Regions from separate parts of the Homo sapiens genome. Here region 1 is linked to region 2. A link means that fine-mapping ties the variant in region 2 to the expression of a gene that starts in the linked region. Tissue or cell type: putamen. Region 2 holds a variant in brackets; the other region holds the start of a gene. All regions are shown on one strand. Distances are from middle to middle.

Evidence for each region. PIP is the estimated chance that this variant, and not a neighbour inherited with it, causes the effect.
Region 1: LINC02795 starts here. The variant in region 2 is fine-mapped to the expression of LINC02795 in putamen (GTEx, PIP 0.95).

The regions. Positions count from the first base shown.
Region 1 is chr1:86,314,716-86,322,827 of GRCh38, reverse strand. It overlaps LINC02795 (long intergenic non-protein coding RNA 2795), which reads left to right and starts at 3,227. Exons shown (of 4, transcript NR_187380.1): 1 at 3,227-4,172; 2 at 4,433-4,496. LOC105378825 (a long non-coding RNA gene) reads left to right here. Exons shown (of 3, transcript XR_007066205.1): 3 at 1,797-2,524.
Region 2 is chr1:86,368,242-86,376,353 of GRCh38, reverse strand. It overlaps ODF2L (outer dense fiber of sperm tails 2 like), which reads left to right. Exons shown (of 17, transcript NM_001366781.1): 8 at 1-121; 9 at 3,814-3,923; 10 at 5,201-5,336. Among named protein-coding and RNA genes, the nearest start is that of MIR7856, 15 kb to the right of the region's middle. The variant T/C (reference allele first, on the strand shown) is at 4,255.

The sequences.
Region 1 (8,112 bases), 54 kb after region 2:
GTGGGAGTATATTTGGGAGACAAAAGCTTTTGTTGGTTTTGAAATATCTGATATTTTCATGTGAAGATTGTAATCAGAGAACTCAACTGGGTATTTGACTACGTTGCTTATAAGAGGGGTCAGGGCTAGAGAAATACATTGAGGAGCTGTCATCAATTTCTCAGAGATTCATAGTGCAGGCTAATTTATACAGGCTTTCAAAATCAAGCTTCATTGGCTGTGAAATCTCGTCATGCTAAAGGGAGCCAACAGACTGAGATAAAAATATATAGATGCTATTTAGATCATGCCACTGGATGAGGTATAGCTCTAGAAGAAGACAGAGCTAGTGGAGCTTAAGGGCGCTACAGCATCACAACAATGCTTTAACTTTGATACCATCAAAATTGACGTCACTTTAGAAAATGTTCTGAATAGTTTCCAGGTCTTTGTAGAGCTCTCTTTTTTTCAAGGAAATTGACAGAATTTTGTATCTTGGCTTAGCACTCTCTCCAGCATTAGTCATGTGGCTTTCTGTGTCTTCTTAGAAATAATAGTTCTCATTTCTGGGATTGTAGATGGTTTTCTTGAATTTATTTTTAAAATGTGTGGTATTTTCATAGAAAAGTAATGCAGTAATGTACCACTGGTACGGCACATTGATTAGACATGCTTTTACTTCTTAATACACCCAGTGTACAAAAAGGGATCACAAGAGAAAAACAAAAGAATTCTGCTACTCAAGATCTTACAACACTGTGTGATACGTATCTGTTAGCAATAATAGGAAGCTACTTCACACTTCTGCAGTGATCTGAAAACTGTCAGATGCCTTTGAACTTGCCATGTCTGCATGCAGCTCCTGCACTTATTTGAGTTACATGAGGTTGCATGTTCTTATTGAGAGTTAAGAGTTCTCATTTGAAAGTGGTCCAGTCTTGCAAAACTCTAACGATGAAAGTATCTCACTTACTGGAAGGCAATGTAGATGTCTGGGTCACCAATTGAGAATAAGTGACTTCGTGGATGTTAAGCACCAATAAGAGGCAGTTTCAGATGGCTGGCCAGCTACCTCACACAGGAATCTAAGACAGGAAGGCTGCAGTCATGTGCAATTTAATGGCAAGTCTAGTAAGGATGATAATTTCAAAGTAGTGATGAAAGTAAATGATATTTGGAGATATCTCCAATAACAGTAATAAGAGATTAAAATATCCGTGGTTACTATTGGTGACAAGGTGACTTGTTCTGCTCCTACAATGGTGATTTGCTGTCTACATTCACAATGAAAGGAAAGGCTAAATGTCAGTTAGAAGTTTAATGAAAATAGGCTGGGCGTGGTGGCTCATGCCTGTAATCTCAGCACTTTGGGAGGCTGAGGCAGGCCGATCACTTGAGGTCAGGAGTTTGAGACCAGCCTTGTCAACATGGTGAAACCCCGTCTCTACTGAAAATACAAAAATTAGCCAGGCGTGGTGCCGGGTGCCTGTAATCCCACCTACTTGGCAGGCTGAGGCAGGAGAATCGCTTGAACCCGGGAGGCAGAGGTTGCAGTGAGCCAAGATTGAACCACTGCACTCCAGCCTTGGGAACAGAGTGAGACTCCGTCTCAAAAAAAAAAAAAAAAGAAATTTAGAAAAAATAAAGATGTGATTTACTTTTCCCATCCATGTTTATGCATGCATTTGCGGACCCCAGGTAAGAGCCCCTGGTTTAAGTGGAAATTAAAGTAATATGCCTGAGTTAACATGCTGTAGTTTGAGGGGATCACTATTCATCTTTTCACTATTTATCTTTTCTTCCCCACCTGATTTTAGGACAAACTGAGAGTAAAAGATGCAGGAATAAAACACAGAAATCAAAATAAAGGGTTTACTGCTGAAAAATCCGCTTGAACAAGCCTGTTAATGTGATCTTCCTGAATGAAGCCAGCTTACCCCTAGGCCTCCACTGTCCCTCAGGAAAGAGAACACGAAAACTGGAACTCTCTGCAGAAAGGAGGATCCCAAAGAAGGGGCCAAGCTGTACATTTATCAATCAGGAAAGCCACTCCACCCTCCATGGCAGCCCCTACAATTTGAAACAAGTATTCTTCCTAACATAACACATTAATTCATGAGTTTATCAGTTCATTTCATTTTTACTTTGAGATTTTTGTGAATAACCATAGAAAAATCTATTTCACCTGGCAATAAATAGGAAAAGGCACAGCATAATGTTTAAATACAGAGAATATTGTTACATGTAAGATGTTGATTGAATGTTCTAAATACAATTTGAAAACTGCGTGAGAGGAGGAAAACGTATATTCAGAAGGACTTAGGTGAATCCAGATGAATATTTTCATGACAGGATGTTGGCTATTGATATGAAGAAAGTAGAGGAATAGACTTGCTAAAAGTTAGAGGAGTCTAGTTTATCTTCCAAGAAGCTTTGCAACCCTGTAATACTGTAGAAATCACAAATTTGGCAATAATTTTAAGATAATTTATGTTCATTTTTTATGGAATGCCATGTTTATCTTTTTATATATGACATTTTCTGGTCAGTAGTAATATATATATCCTTTATTAAAATTGGAAAATAAATACAAACATTTTATTTATTTATTGGTTAAAAAATTATTATGCTCATTCTTTTTTTTTTTAACCAGTAAGGATCTGGATAAAGAAAAACATTTTAGAAAACCACTTGTAGAGTACCATGAACCAGTCTCTCTTCTCCATTTTAAAAAATTTATTGACTCACTTTTTTTCCATAACTTTTTGAGATATTATTTCAACCACTTTGCATTTAGAGAAAAAGAGTCAGAGAGTGATTAAGAAATCTGCCCAATGCTATACTGATAGAAGCTGGGAGAACTGGGATTTGAGCTTACATAGGCTAGTTCTAGCATTTGTGAAGTTCTCGCCTAATAAAAATTATCTGTAATCATAACCAGAGCAAGTCATTTCTAACCTCCTGTCTATAGACACGCGGATACATTTGTAATGTTTTTGTTTGTTTGTTTTTAGCACGACAGATCAATTCCTGCTGGCATTATAGTTCTTTAACTATCATAGCTTCTCTGATTTTTCAACACATCTGTCATCCGTATTCTGCAGGCATAGCCAACTCTGTCAGTGTCTCCTCAGGCAATCAGAATCAACAGACAGAATGTAGGACAGAAAACTGGCTGCAAACATGTTGGAAGGGCTGGAGGAGCGAAAGAGGGAAGATCTGTTACCTAGAGATAGTAACTTCCAGAAGTTACCACTATACTAGTGCAGGAGAAGCAGAAAGGAAGATGCTGCTACCCAGAGCCCACAGTCATTGTGCCCCTGATGCCGCTGGAACCCCACTGCAGCTGCTTTACAGGAAGCAGGGAATTAGCGCTCTTGCTGATGCTACAGGTATCCAGGATCCAAAAGTCATCAGCCGCTGTCCCTGTTGCAGCCTAGGGAAACTGTCCCACTGAGGTTGTTGGGGTACCTGCTACTGCATCTACTGTCTGAACCATGTTGCCTGAGCAGATGTCCAGGGCTCAGGCTTGCCTGCTGCTGTTACTGCTGCCACCATGTTTATCAGAGCTACTTCAAGAAGAGAAGAAATCCTCCTCATTTCCAGTTTTTTCCAGTGCCTCCCATTGCTTCCCAGAATGCCAAATTCTCTTTGAGAGACAGCTGAAAGGAAGGTTTGGAAAAGACTCTGGTGTAAGCAGATTCTGCTTCCCTGCAATAGGGGGAAAGCATAGGGTGGAACTGGAGCTGAGAGCTAATCACGAATGAGCAAATCAGTCTTCAAGACATTTACCTTTCCTTGAAACGTTTCCCTTCTTTTACCGTGTTTTCCATGTCATTATTTTTCCACAATTCTGCATCATATTCTGTTAACTATTAATGCCCTGGATAAGTTTATTTGCTCTTTCTTAGGGTTAATTTTTCTCCTTTTCTTCGAAGCTTTAGTTTGCAGGTTCAGCTTGTGTGGGAATTTTCATCTCCCTCCTCTTCAAGACTCCTTGGATATCAGTTTTTTGGTTGCCTTCACCAACTCTCCCCCCACCATCTCTAGACCAGGGCATGGTCTTAGTTGGTGGCTTGGACTCCTGTGGCTTGGAGTCTTTGGGGATATTAGAGATCCAGTCACTGAGCTGGCAAAGGGAACACTGTCCTTGCTTCCAGCTTTATGAAGAACGCTTTGCTCTGTCACCCCACGTGAGTCCAACTCTTGGCTGCCTACACTGCCTGAGGCTTCAGTTCTGGCATCGTGCTGCATGTGATCTATTATCCTGCTTTTGAATATGCCTATGACTTTTCTTTATATATTTTTAAAAATGTTATTATTGGTATGTTTACAGTGAAGGGAAGAATGTGAAGCATGAACTCAAGAGTCACAGTAATGATAAATTTTAATGATTGTAATTGTCCTATCTGTCATAATACATTTATTTTGTTGATTTGTTTGGATTTTCTAGGTAAATAATCATGTTATTCAAGGATAATGAATGCAGCCACCATGTAATCATCACTGACTCCATGGCAAGTACACTCTGCCTTGTGCTTTATATACTTGTCAGGACTCAGAAATGGGCAAAGAGGATCACTGGTGTCTTTCAGTGGAGTGCTGGGCATTATAGTGGAGTCCTGGATTATCTGATTCCAAGAATTCACACCTTGACTTTCTATTGACTAGGTTATTTTGCAGCTCTGCAGAGGTAGCTGTTAAATTGTTGAAAACTGCTGACAATGCAGCAAATTCTTATTCATACCAAAGCAAACAAATTTTGACTGGTTGATTATAAAGCTCTATAAGTCAAATTCTCATTTGAACAGATCTTACTATATTAGTGGTTCCCTCAGTAATTAAAGAGTTGAAATAAAATCTTTGACATATGTTTCTTTTATAACTGTAGAAGGGTCATAATTTTACTTTTTTGAAAATTATCCTTTAGCATACATAGTATCTTTTAGTCTTCACAACCTGAGAGGTAAGTATCACTCCCATTTAATAGATGAGAAAACCGAGACTCAGATCAAATGCTTGCCTGCTCAATGTCAGATTAACTACTAAGTGGTCAAGCTGGGATTTGAATGCCAAATTTTGCTCTCTTCAAGCTCTGCTTTCAAGATCTGTGGTCTTACATATTTTTGCTTCCTGGAGAAACCCCATTTACTCACAAATAAAATGATGAAAAAATATGAACTTTGATAAAACAATATTAATAATGACTAATATTTATTAAGTGTTTACTGTAAGCCAAACACCAAACTAAACTTATTTGGATTAATTCATGTAAGTAACAATGAGAGAAGTGAGTTTAAAGAGGTTCAATAACATGCTCAAGGCTTTACATGCTATTTCTAACTTTTTCTCTTCTTTCTCCAAATGCCTAGTTTTCCACATTAGCTGCACGCTAGAATCATCTAGAGAGAGCTCCTTAAAAATATTAGGGTATCAGCATATCTTAAAAGATTCCTAGGTGATTCTAATATGGAGAATCACCACATAATAGAGAGGACTTTTCCTGCTTCCCTAGCTGATACTTAAGAGAACTGGACAAATCTGCAATATTTGTTTTGGTTTTTCTGCTGTAGCTTGGAAAAGGAGTAATGGGGCTGAAATCTGTACTATCCTGAAGCTTGAGTGTCTAGATGTATGCAGGGCTTAGCTAAAAGCATTTGAAAAAGCATCTCAGCCAAAGGTCAAATCATAGCAGGAGCACAGCAATTTAGAGAAACCATCTGAGTGGTAAGAAAATGACTTTTACATGGACTCACTAAAAGATTTAGATATGCCTTAATAAGGCCAGACAATAACACATATTGTCAGTATTTGCTAAACAAATTCTCTTCTTGTAATTTGGAAATGATTTCAATCACATATTAATATTTTATATAAACATCCTTATCCCCTTGCCCACAGAAGCAGACACAGTAGCCTAGCTACTCAAAAGCCATTCACAATCTTTCATTCTTGTCTTTTCCTTCATCATAACTTGAAAACTAAAACATTTAGGTTTCCAACCATCTTTCCATTAGAAGTAACCTTGTGACCCAATTCTCGACCAGTAAGATGAAAACAGTTGTTATGAAACTTTGAAACGTCATTTTTAAAGAGATAAACTAAGAAGCCCCAGCCTTATATATAGATGAGCCTTGAGGTGGTAGAGCAGCTATTTTGTGACCGTGTAGAAAAAGCCACAAGCCAAGAATGGTGGAACAGAAAACTGAAAGGACGCTGGGTTCTTGATGATATCGTGGAGTCATGTACCAGTCCTCAACAACCTCATATCAGAAATTTTTTAACATAAAAAAGTTAGTCCCTTAATCATACAGTCTACTCTTGGTTGGTTTTTCTGTTGCTTGCAGCTGAAGGAAACCCTAACTGATACATTTGTCAAAACATGGAAATAAGAATGTATTTTTTGTTGTTATTTTATTTGAAAAACCACTGTTAAACAAAAGCTTTGAAAGCCAACTTCAGTCAATTTAATTAAGCCCAATAAGAAATCTACACAAGTCATGTCTTTTTTAAGTCAGTCATGTGTTGTCTTCTACCTTAGTTAGTTTCCATTCTGATTTCAAATTGAGTGACAAACTCTGGTAATATATACCCAGAATTTTTCTAAATTAACTCCTATTTTTTCCCCTTTTACAACAATACATTACAAAACCTAACACTTAATAGAAACCAACTTTCTTCTCTTAGATTTAATTGTAATGCAGAAATCTAGCAACAGGATCAATTGTGATATTTTGTAATGCAAAACTCCCAAGTAACTTTTAGGCCTTTAAGCATCTCATCATGAGAAACATGGATTAAATATATAATAACATTGTAAGAAAAATGTGTCCTGTTTTATTGGACCTTCTTGCTGCTTTCTTTTTTCACCTTTTCATATGGTTTCTTCATAATTGTTCTACCCAATTCTCAGCCAGTCTTGTTTGTTCATATTTCAGATTGGCAATGTGGTAAAAACATAGTGATTTGTGATCATTCAAGAGTAGTTTGATCAGTAAAATAGATTAAATCTAAAACATCTAGATTAAAATAGCAAGTTCTTAGATAATCAGAAGAATACTGTAATTGTTCTCTTATATAATTTTTATTTTAATTTTTTAGAGACAGCGTCTCTCACTGTCACCTAGGCTGGAGTGCAGTAGCATGATCATAGCTCACTGCAGCCTTGGACTTCTGGGCTCAAGCTGTTCTCCCCTCTCAGCCTCTCAAGTAGCTAGGTCTGTGAGCAAATGCTACCACGCCCAGGTAATTTTTTTTTTTAATTTTTGTAGAGACGTCTCTCTGTGTTTTCCAGGCTGGTCTTGAACTCCTGGCCTCAACCAGTCCTCCTACCTTAGCTTCCCGAAGTTCTGGGATTTACAGGCATGAGCCGCCATGCCTGGCCTGCCATATATAAACTTTAGGTATTTTAGTATAACGTACTTTGTTCTAAATTTTTTCTAACCATAATACAGTCTTTCTTTAATTCAGAGTACATGGTCTTTTCTGCCCAGTAGAGCTTACGTTTGTGTTAAGAAAATTTTCTTTTATGATTACCCATAGGTCAACAAATTTTAGCCTTTTATAGGAAGACTGAATTTACTTTTCAAAACTGAGTAAATTGTTAAGCTCATTTTGAGTGATGCAAGTAACCCATCCAATGCAATGTAGATTGTCCTTCTTATCTTTATTATTAATGAAGAGAAACACAACCATTTAGAGTTTCTCAAAGGAGATCGAATTTTCAATATTTAGGGTGTGGGCCAGTGTTTTGGAATGAACATGTTTTTTCTTCATGAGTTTCATTAAACATGTTTACTAATGTTTTACACCAGTGGAATTTCATATCTGTCAGAATTCATGATCTCATTCAGTTGTTATTAGAAAAACTTTAGACAAATTAAATTTAATGGAGTTTAACTGAGCAAAGAATGATTTGCACATCAGACAGCCCTCAGAACCAAAATAGGTTTGGAGCAATTCTGGTGCTGCAGCGTGGTCAGATCATTTTATGGACAGAAAAAGGAATGTGACATTCAAAAAATGGAAGCGAGGTACTGAAACAGTTGGATTGGTTACAGCTGGGTGTTTGCCTTATTTGAACCTGGTTCGAACAGTTTGCTACCTGTGATTGGCTACTTGTTACAAGAGTAG
Region 2 (8,112 bases):
GATGAAAGAAGCAAGTAGGCAAAAAACTGTAGCTTTAAAAAAGGCATCTAAAGTTTACAAACAAAGGCTTGACCATTTTACAGGAGCTATTGAAAAGCTTACTTCCCAAATTAGAGATCAGGTATGTAAATGCATTCTTTTTAAAATTAAAAGATCTATTATGTACGTAGTTTATATAATTAATATCATGATGCTTAATATAGTAATTTTATTCTTTTCTTAATGCTGTTAATACCAGAAAAAACTTACACTTTTTGCTTTAATCTTTTACTTTGAAATATTACATAAAATGTCAAATTTTCATATTGAAATATATCAGCATTTCCTTGGGAACTTTACTTAAAGGAAATATTAAGTGTGTCCCCCCCGCCTCCACACACAAAAAAAGGTTCTATTGGCCAACTAACTAAGGGTAATACTTCATACATATTTCCCCTTGGGACATTGTGGTCTATGTTAGCAAATTAAAGGTTCTGAGAAGGCTTTCAGAAACAGTGGAATGAAGGGTATTGAACTAAGAGTTTCCCACACTTTTTTAACCACAGAGCTAGTCTTTTATGCACAAAGCAACTCTTGGAACTGGTTCTGAGGAACACTAGTTTGAGAAATGCTGATTTATGTTATTAGACCCTATGACTTTATTCAGTAATTAACCTAATTTAATCTCTGTAATACATTTAAAACCATGTGCTGACATAAACACACCAAGTAAAATATATCTTTGGTATAGTACAAATTTGAAAATGGCCTTAGTGCTTTGTTGTTTTTGATAAATTATTATATTTATTCAATTACTAATTAATAATTTTTTTAAAAAAGTCTCACTGATATCCTGCCTCTTAAGAACTTATGTTAAGGCTTATAGAATTATTAGAGGCTTTTAGAAATGAAAACAGACTTGTATAAAAAGTTTATGGCAAACAAAGTAGTATTTTGTTAACCTTGTGACTTGGGATAAGGAACTTAACCTCTTCAATTTCCTCATGTATAAAATAGGGCATCATAATACTCCCTATCTCATGTGTTTGTAGGGAGAGATAAATGAGAAAATATATTTTTGCATTGTCCTCCTTTCTGTTGCTGTAATGCATGAAGTTTTTTTCTTTGTTTTGTTGTTTTTCTTGTTTGTTGTTGCATCTGGCTTTAATATTCTTCCCTGGCTCACAATAGCTCTTTCTTTTTTTAATCATTCAGGTATCTTTTCAATTGACATCTCTTCAGAGAGGCCTTTCTTGACCATTTCTTTTGAAGTAGTTCTAAAACAATCATATCAATGTCTTAATTTTTTTCATAGCATTCACTATAATCTGAAACTATATCATTTATTTTTTCATTTATCACTGCTGTTGTGTTTTGTTTTATTTTTAACTGTTTCCTTCTACTTGAGTATAAGTCTCAGAAGGCAGGAGCTTGCTATCCTATTCACCTAAGGTAAGGGTACCATTATTTAAAACAGTACCTTAAGTCTAAAATATGAACAGTTCAGCAATAAGAGCTAAATAATAGTTTAACAAAATGTTATCACATATCTACACAATGCGTAAATTTTGCCAAGGACTACAGAGACAGATCAAGGACAAGGAGGATTTGTAAACGTCTGTGGTCTTTGGTAATTAGAAGGTCACTAGTTACTAATTCACATGCAGTTTCAATGCAGTGGAAGGAAAGGTGAAAAGGGGTATTTTGCTTTATCTGCATGTTATAAGGAGAGATGAAAGGAGAAATGGGGATTTGGAAAGTACGAGAGACCACTGATTCTGACTTTTAGTACCTAGGGGCCAGGATGTTAAATGCTCTATAATTCTGCACACTGAAGAATTAACCCATTTCCTTCTTTGAAAATTAGATCCTAATTTTGCTTCTCGTGGCTTAGATGTGCCATTTCTCTAAAGCAAAGAGAAAAGGTAGGCCAACTCAAAAAATCTCTAGGAAGGTGATTCCATCACTGACTAGTTTCAACATCTAGGAATGCCATACTGATGAAGTAGGTAATAATTATATTGCTAACATATAAATTCTTTTCTTACTGATAAAACTTCTAAATATCTTAATTTATATTATAAACTTATACTTCATAATTTATATTAAAGCTTATTTTATACAAAATATGAAAACAATACTAGTCTTCAATATATCAAAATATTCCTGTGAAAAAATTTAAACAAAAAAGTCTTGCACGTAATACATGCTCAGTAAATACTTGCTCAGTAAATGGATGAATGATGAAAGAAAGAAGTACCCAATAAATGTTAATTGTTGTCATTACTGTTTCTAAGCTTTTTGATTTGTAATTACTGGCATTGTGGCCTTCCAGTGTGTTTTTATGTAGAATGTAGAGCGGAGGCACAGTGGCTACAGCTCTTTAGGTGGATCTGCAGAGAATTATTTGAGCTATTTATTGAGTGTTTGCTGTGCTCCAGGCACTATCAAGGCCCTAGAAATATAGCCATGAACAAAAGCAGATAAAAATCCCTACCTCATGGGAGTTCACATTCAAAATGAATAAGCCACTACTACCACTTGTATCTCTGTGTGGACGGTAGCAGTGTTTGAAGGCTGATGGGGTGACCTCTACAAAATAGATCTTGGCGTCATTATAGCAAAGACAAGTAAGGTACATCACCAAATGTTATGGAGCTGTGGAATTGGGGATAGTTTCTGTGTATATCACAGGGGCTTTCTCCTCTGATGCTTATGTGTTTGTTACCATCTTCTCTCTATAGAGCATGAAATTAATTCAAGACCAGCCTGGGCAACATAACAAGATGCTGTCTCTACTATATATATACAGTATATAGTATATACACCATATATATAGAGTAGTTATATATATCAATATATATGTATAACATATATATATAGTATATACATATGTATCTAGATATATTTTATATATGCATGTGTATATATGTGGTGGCTGTGGTTGGCAGACATTTGTAGCCCTAGCTACTAGGGAGGCTGAGGCAGGAGGATCCCTTGCACTCAGGAGTTGGAGGCTGCAGTGAACCATCATGACCGTGCCACTGCACTTCAGCCAGGGCAAAAAAAAAAAAAAGTAAAATGGAAAGTTCAGTAAAAAGAAAAGAAATTATCTTAATTATGAAATATTGTTTAAAAATAGTTGCAACATCTTTTAAAATTTAAGTTGAAACTTCCACTATGTGTATATGAAATAATAGCAATATAGATATTTACTTTACAATTTTTCTATTCAAAGTTGTACAGTGACTTTATTTATTTCAATAGTTTTTAGGGGACAGGTCGTTTCTGGTTACCTGGACAACTTCTTTAGTGGTTATTTCTGACATTTTGGTGCACCTGTCACCCGAGCACTGTACACTGTAGCCAATGTGTAGTCTTTTACCCCTCACCTCCCTCCCTCCCTTCTCCCTAGTTCCTAAAGTCCTTTATATCAATCTTATGCTTTTGCATTTTCATAGCTTAGCTCCCACTTATGAGTGAGAACATACGATATTTGGTTTTCCATTCCTGAGTTACTTCACTTATAATAGCTGTCTCCAACTTCATCCAGGTTGCTGCAGATGTTCCTTTTAATGGCTGAGTAGTATTCCATGATGGATATATACCATATTTTCTTTATCCACTCATTGGTTGGTGGGCATTTAGGCTGGTTCCATATTTTTGCAATTATGAATTGCACTGCTATAAACATGCATGTATAGTTTTCTATATTTGAAGTTCCATACTTTTTGGAAGATTGCTTCCCTGTTTATAATGTATTTGTGTTTAGAGATCTGAACAAAACAAAAATGTTTTAAAATTATAGTATGAATACTTTTATGTATTTTTTAGGAAGCCAAGTTGTCTGAAACAATTTCAGCTTCCAATGCCTGGAAAAGTCATTATGAGAAAATTGTGATAGAAAAAACCGAATTGGAAGTACAGATTGAAACAATGAAAAAGTAAGAAAAAATTTAGAATATTTTATTATTTAGTAAGAGTTTTCACTTTTTAAAAAATTCTTTGAGTTGTTTGTATTTTGATTTTTTTTAGATTACATATGGTAAAGGTGCTACCTATATGATTTGATATTTTTGCTATTTATAATTCAATAAAGTTTTCTTACTCTATTATTAAAAATAATTAAAATGATTGCTCATTAAAAGTGAATTGGTGTTCACATTTTTAATTTTTTTTTTTTTTTTGAGATGGAGTCTCACTTTGTTGCCAGGCTGGAGTGCAGTGGTGCAATCTCAGCTCACTGCAACCTCCGCCTCCTGGGTTCAAGTGATT[T/C]TCCTGTTTCAGCCTCCCTAGTAGCTGGGACTACAGGCATGCACCACCAAGCCCAGCTGTTTTTTTTTGTATTTTTAGTAGAGACAGGGTTTCACCATGTTGGTCAGGATGGTCTCGATCTCCTGACCTTGTGATCCGCCTGCCTCGGCCTCCCAAAGTGCTGGGATTACAGGCGTGAGCCACCACGCCTGGCCCACATTTTGAAATTTTAAACTTGTAGATTATCATTCAATATTTCAGTATGCCATCTATTATTTGTAGTAAATGTTAATATTTACTTTTTCTTAAATGGAGGTGATGTTTCTCTTTTAAACAAGAATGTGTGAAAATATATCTAAAAGTTTATAATAACTGCTTTGAAAATCGTAAAAATGATTGTTCCTTAAAGTGACTTAAATGCATAACAAAGAAAATGAAAAATAAAAATACATATATTTTATTATTTGAAATGTATTACTGATAACACTATAATGAACCCTGAATATTTGATTTTAAGTGTTTTCTGTGTCTTCAGTTTTGTCATTGAAAACTACCATATATAATTCATTTCTAAAGTTTAGTTTTATTGCCTCACTTAATTCTTTTCTTTAACCTTGTCCCTAAAATTGTGTATATATGTGTGCATGTGTATGAATGACAGGAAGAGAGAGATGTGCATACTTGTGGATAATAGTTTAGAAGTTTTATTGAATAGCAAAGAGCATGTTGTATAATTTTTTGTTGGTATCATCAGTGGGCAATTGTTTCTAATCAGAGTTACTTTGGTTGTACCCTTTTAGATTACTTCTTCTTATTTTTCTTGTTCTATGAGTTCTATTTATTTTTTGTATATTCCCTATTTGAAACGATGCACCCGGCCAAAGTGATTTCAGAAACACACTTAAAATGTGTTATTTGAATAAAAATTTTTATGACTTTTATAAAATGTGTCATTGATTTTATAAAGGCAAATCATTAATCTTTTGGAAGATCTGAAGAAAATGGAAGACCATGGAAAAAATTCATGTGAAGAAATTCTTAGAAAAGTTCACTCAATTGAATATGAAAATGAAACTCTGAATCTTGAGAATACAAAATTAAAGGTACTATGTATGAGTGTTTGAGCAGGCATGTATTGTGTAATGACCATAGTCTACTTAGTAGAAATAGCTTGAAGAAAGAGTATGTTTAGAGCAGTGCTCTTGTATAATTCTGTCTTCTATGCTTGTCAGGATATTATGTTTTCAGCAGTACTAAATAATATTTATGAAGTTGACTGTCTCTTTGCCTCAACTTTTAAAATAAACTACTATGCATTTTTGCAGTTAAATGAATCATCCAAATTACATTAACTTTAGTACATAAGATTATTTCTAGATGTCATGGTTACAATAGGATATAACCTCAGGCCTGGTCTGTTTGAAACCAGAAAGTATGTTCTTGGCTGCTTCATAACCAGAAAGAATTTTCCAACTTACTCATATCCAAGGGGTAATTGCTTTCCATAGGTACCAGAGGAGAGACAGGGGAGAAGCTTTTGAATTTTCTGAGAAAAAAAGATATTTGAGTTCTCAGTCAACCAGAGATACATACAACCAGATGGAACTTGAAAGATGATGGCATCATTTTCACTTCCATAATAATACTTTTAGAGGACAGAAAATAGAAGACAGAAAAGAACCTTTTAAAACCATGAAATAAAGTTTATGTGCACAGGATAAATAATATATTAGTAGCATAGAGTACATTTTAGAGAAACTTGTAATATAAGCATCTAACATTGTTTTGTTGTATTTATAACAGTTTAATTCTATTTAGAATTAACTAAATGATATTTAGAATTAACTAAATGATAATACATTTATTCTATGTATTAAGATGTCCTTAAGACATGTTAAATTCCTAAGAGATATTGCAGATATATTCTGTGGTCCTTGAGAGAAAAGATCTTTAATATTAAAAGAGAAGTGAAGGTCTAAGGCTTTTTTTTTTCTTGATTTAAGGTTTGTTTTTCTTTGTTTGTTTTGCATTAGAAATGCACTTGTTTCTTGGAAACATAATTACTGGCTGTTTAGAATTATGCATTATATAAAGCTTGCAGTGGGTTTTTAAAAATGAGTATGTTTATGAGAAAAAATATACACAATTTAAAAATCATCACCAAAGGAAATTATTTTAATAAAATGATAGCATTCCAGGCTTTAAGGTTCTGAATTGTTATTTTAAAAGATTATTTTTCTGATGGAAACTTGAGATACATCCAAATCTCTTTTACCCTTTCTAAACCCTTCTTTCTATGTAGGTCTAAAATGTTGTGGCCTGAAAAGAGAATTTTATCCATTGTAGGTCTTAGCATATTTTCTCAGGAGCCAATCTGTTTGCTACGTACTGATCTGTCTTTGTGGGAGATACATAGTGTTATGCAGTACAGTGTATAGTAATTAAAGCTTGTGTATTATATATTACAGAAGGCAACAGATTGCCTAAGCCAAAAAGATTCTTTCCCTTTGTAGGTTTACAAAGTTGTAACTTTTCTCATCTTGATGTTGAGTTTCAGTCTCCTTTAGACCAATGGGACAAAGCTAGGCTCACAAATCTCAAGTCTGTTTTGTTCCAGGTGGAAAGACTCGATTGGTTTCAAATGCAGGACTTGAAATTGCCAGTCCTGTTGGCTGTGGTCATTCAGAGTGAGTGGAGGAAATAGGAATCTAAGTGATATACGTTATAGGAAGTAGCAAGGTCTTCTTTTCTCACCTTTAATGTATTTAGTAATGCACTTATTTCGGCTACTTTTTGTTAAGAAAGATTTTAAAAAATCAAAATTGCAGTGTACCTTAATACCATTTTTTTTTAGCAGTGACATTGTGATATTCTGAATTAGAATTTTTTCCTTCAAGAAATTTTGTAAGTCCTTTATGGTTCTTCAAGCAATATGAACTACTCATGTTTTCTTAATAAAAGAAGTTCAGTTATTCAGTGAACATAGTTCTTCCAACTTCTGACAATTTATTCAGTATTATCTTTTGAGTGAAGAATATATACTCATTACAGTAAAACTGGAAACTATAGAAATATAAAAAGAAAAGAACTGAGTGATCATTGACCTCACATTCCTTGGAGATAACTATATTTTGTAATATTTCTGTTTTTTCGTAGTTGTTATTAAAATAATATCTTGCTTTGTTCACTTTAAAATGGAAACAGATTTATGTATATAACATATAAATTCTTTATAAGCATCCTTTTAAATTACTTTGTAATATATAGTCAACGTAGAAGTGTTAGGTGATTCCCTATTTGTTGGACATTCAGGTTATTCCCAATGTTTTTAACATTTAATAATAATAATGCTCTGATGAACATTTTCATACATAAACTTTTTGTTGTATTGTCTTTAGCTTAGATTCCCATGTAGAATTACTGAGTCAAAGAATATGAACATTTTGATTGTTCTTGATATGCTTTGCTACATTTCTTCTGAAAAGGTATTTTATTACTCATACTGCCATTAGTTCTCTATACCTCATCAGCACAGGAAATAAAATGTGTTTTTGATTTGTAGTGTTTGCTAATTTGGCAGGTAAAAATGTTATCTATGGTTTTAATTTGTAACTCTTTGAGGAGCTAGTTTTAAATTTCTAAACAATTTCTATTTTTATTCTTCTGATAGTTATCTGCATATCTGTAAATTATATATTATACTCCTTGGTTTATCAAATTTAGTCAATTATATTAACCTTCTAATTAGTCGAGCACTAACATAATTGATAATATAAATACTAATACAACTAAAAGACATGTTAAATTCCTAGTAAATAATACAACAAACATATAACTTTATACTTTCAAAAAAATAAGTGAAGGTAGTTTGATAGAGGA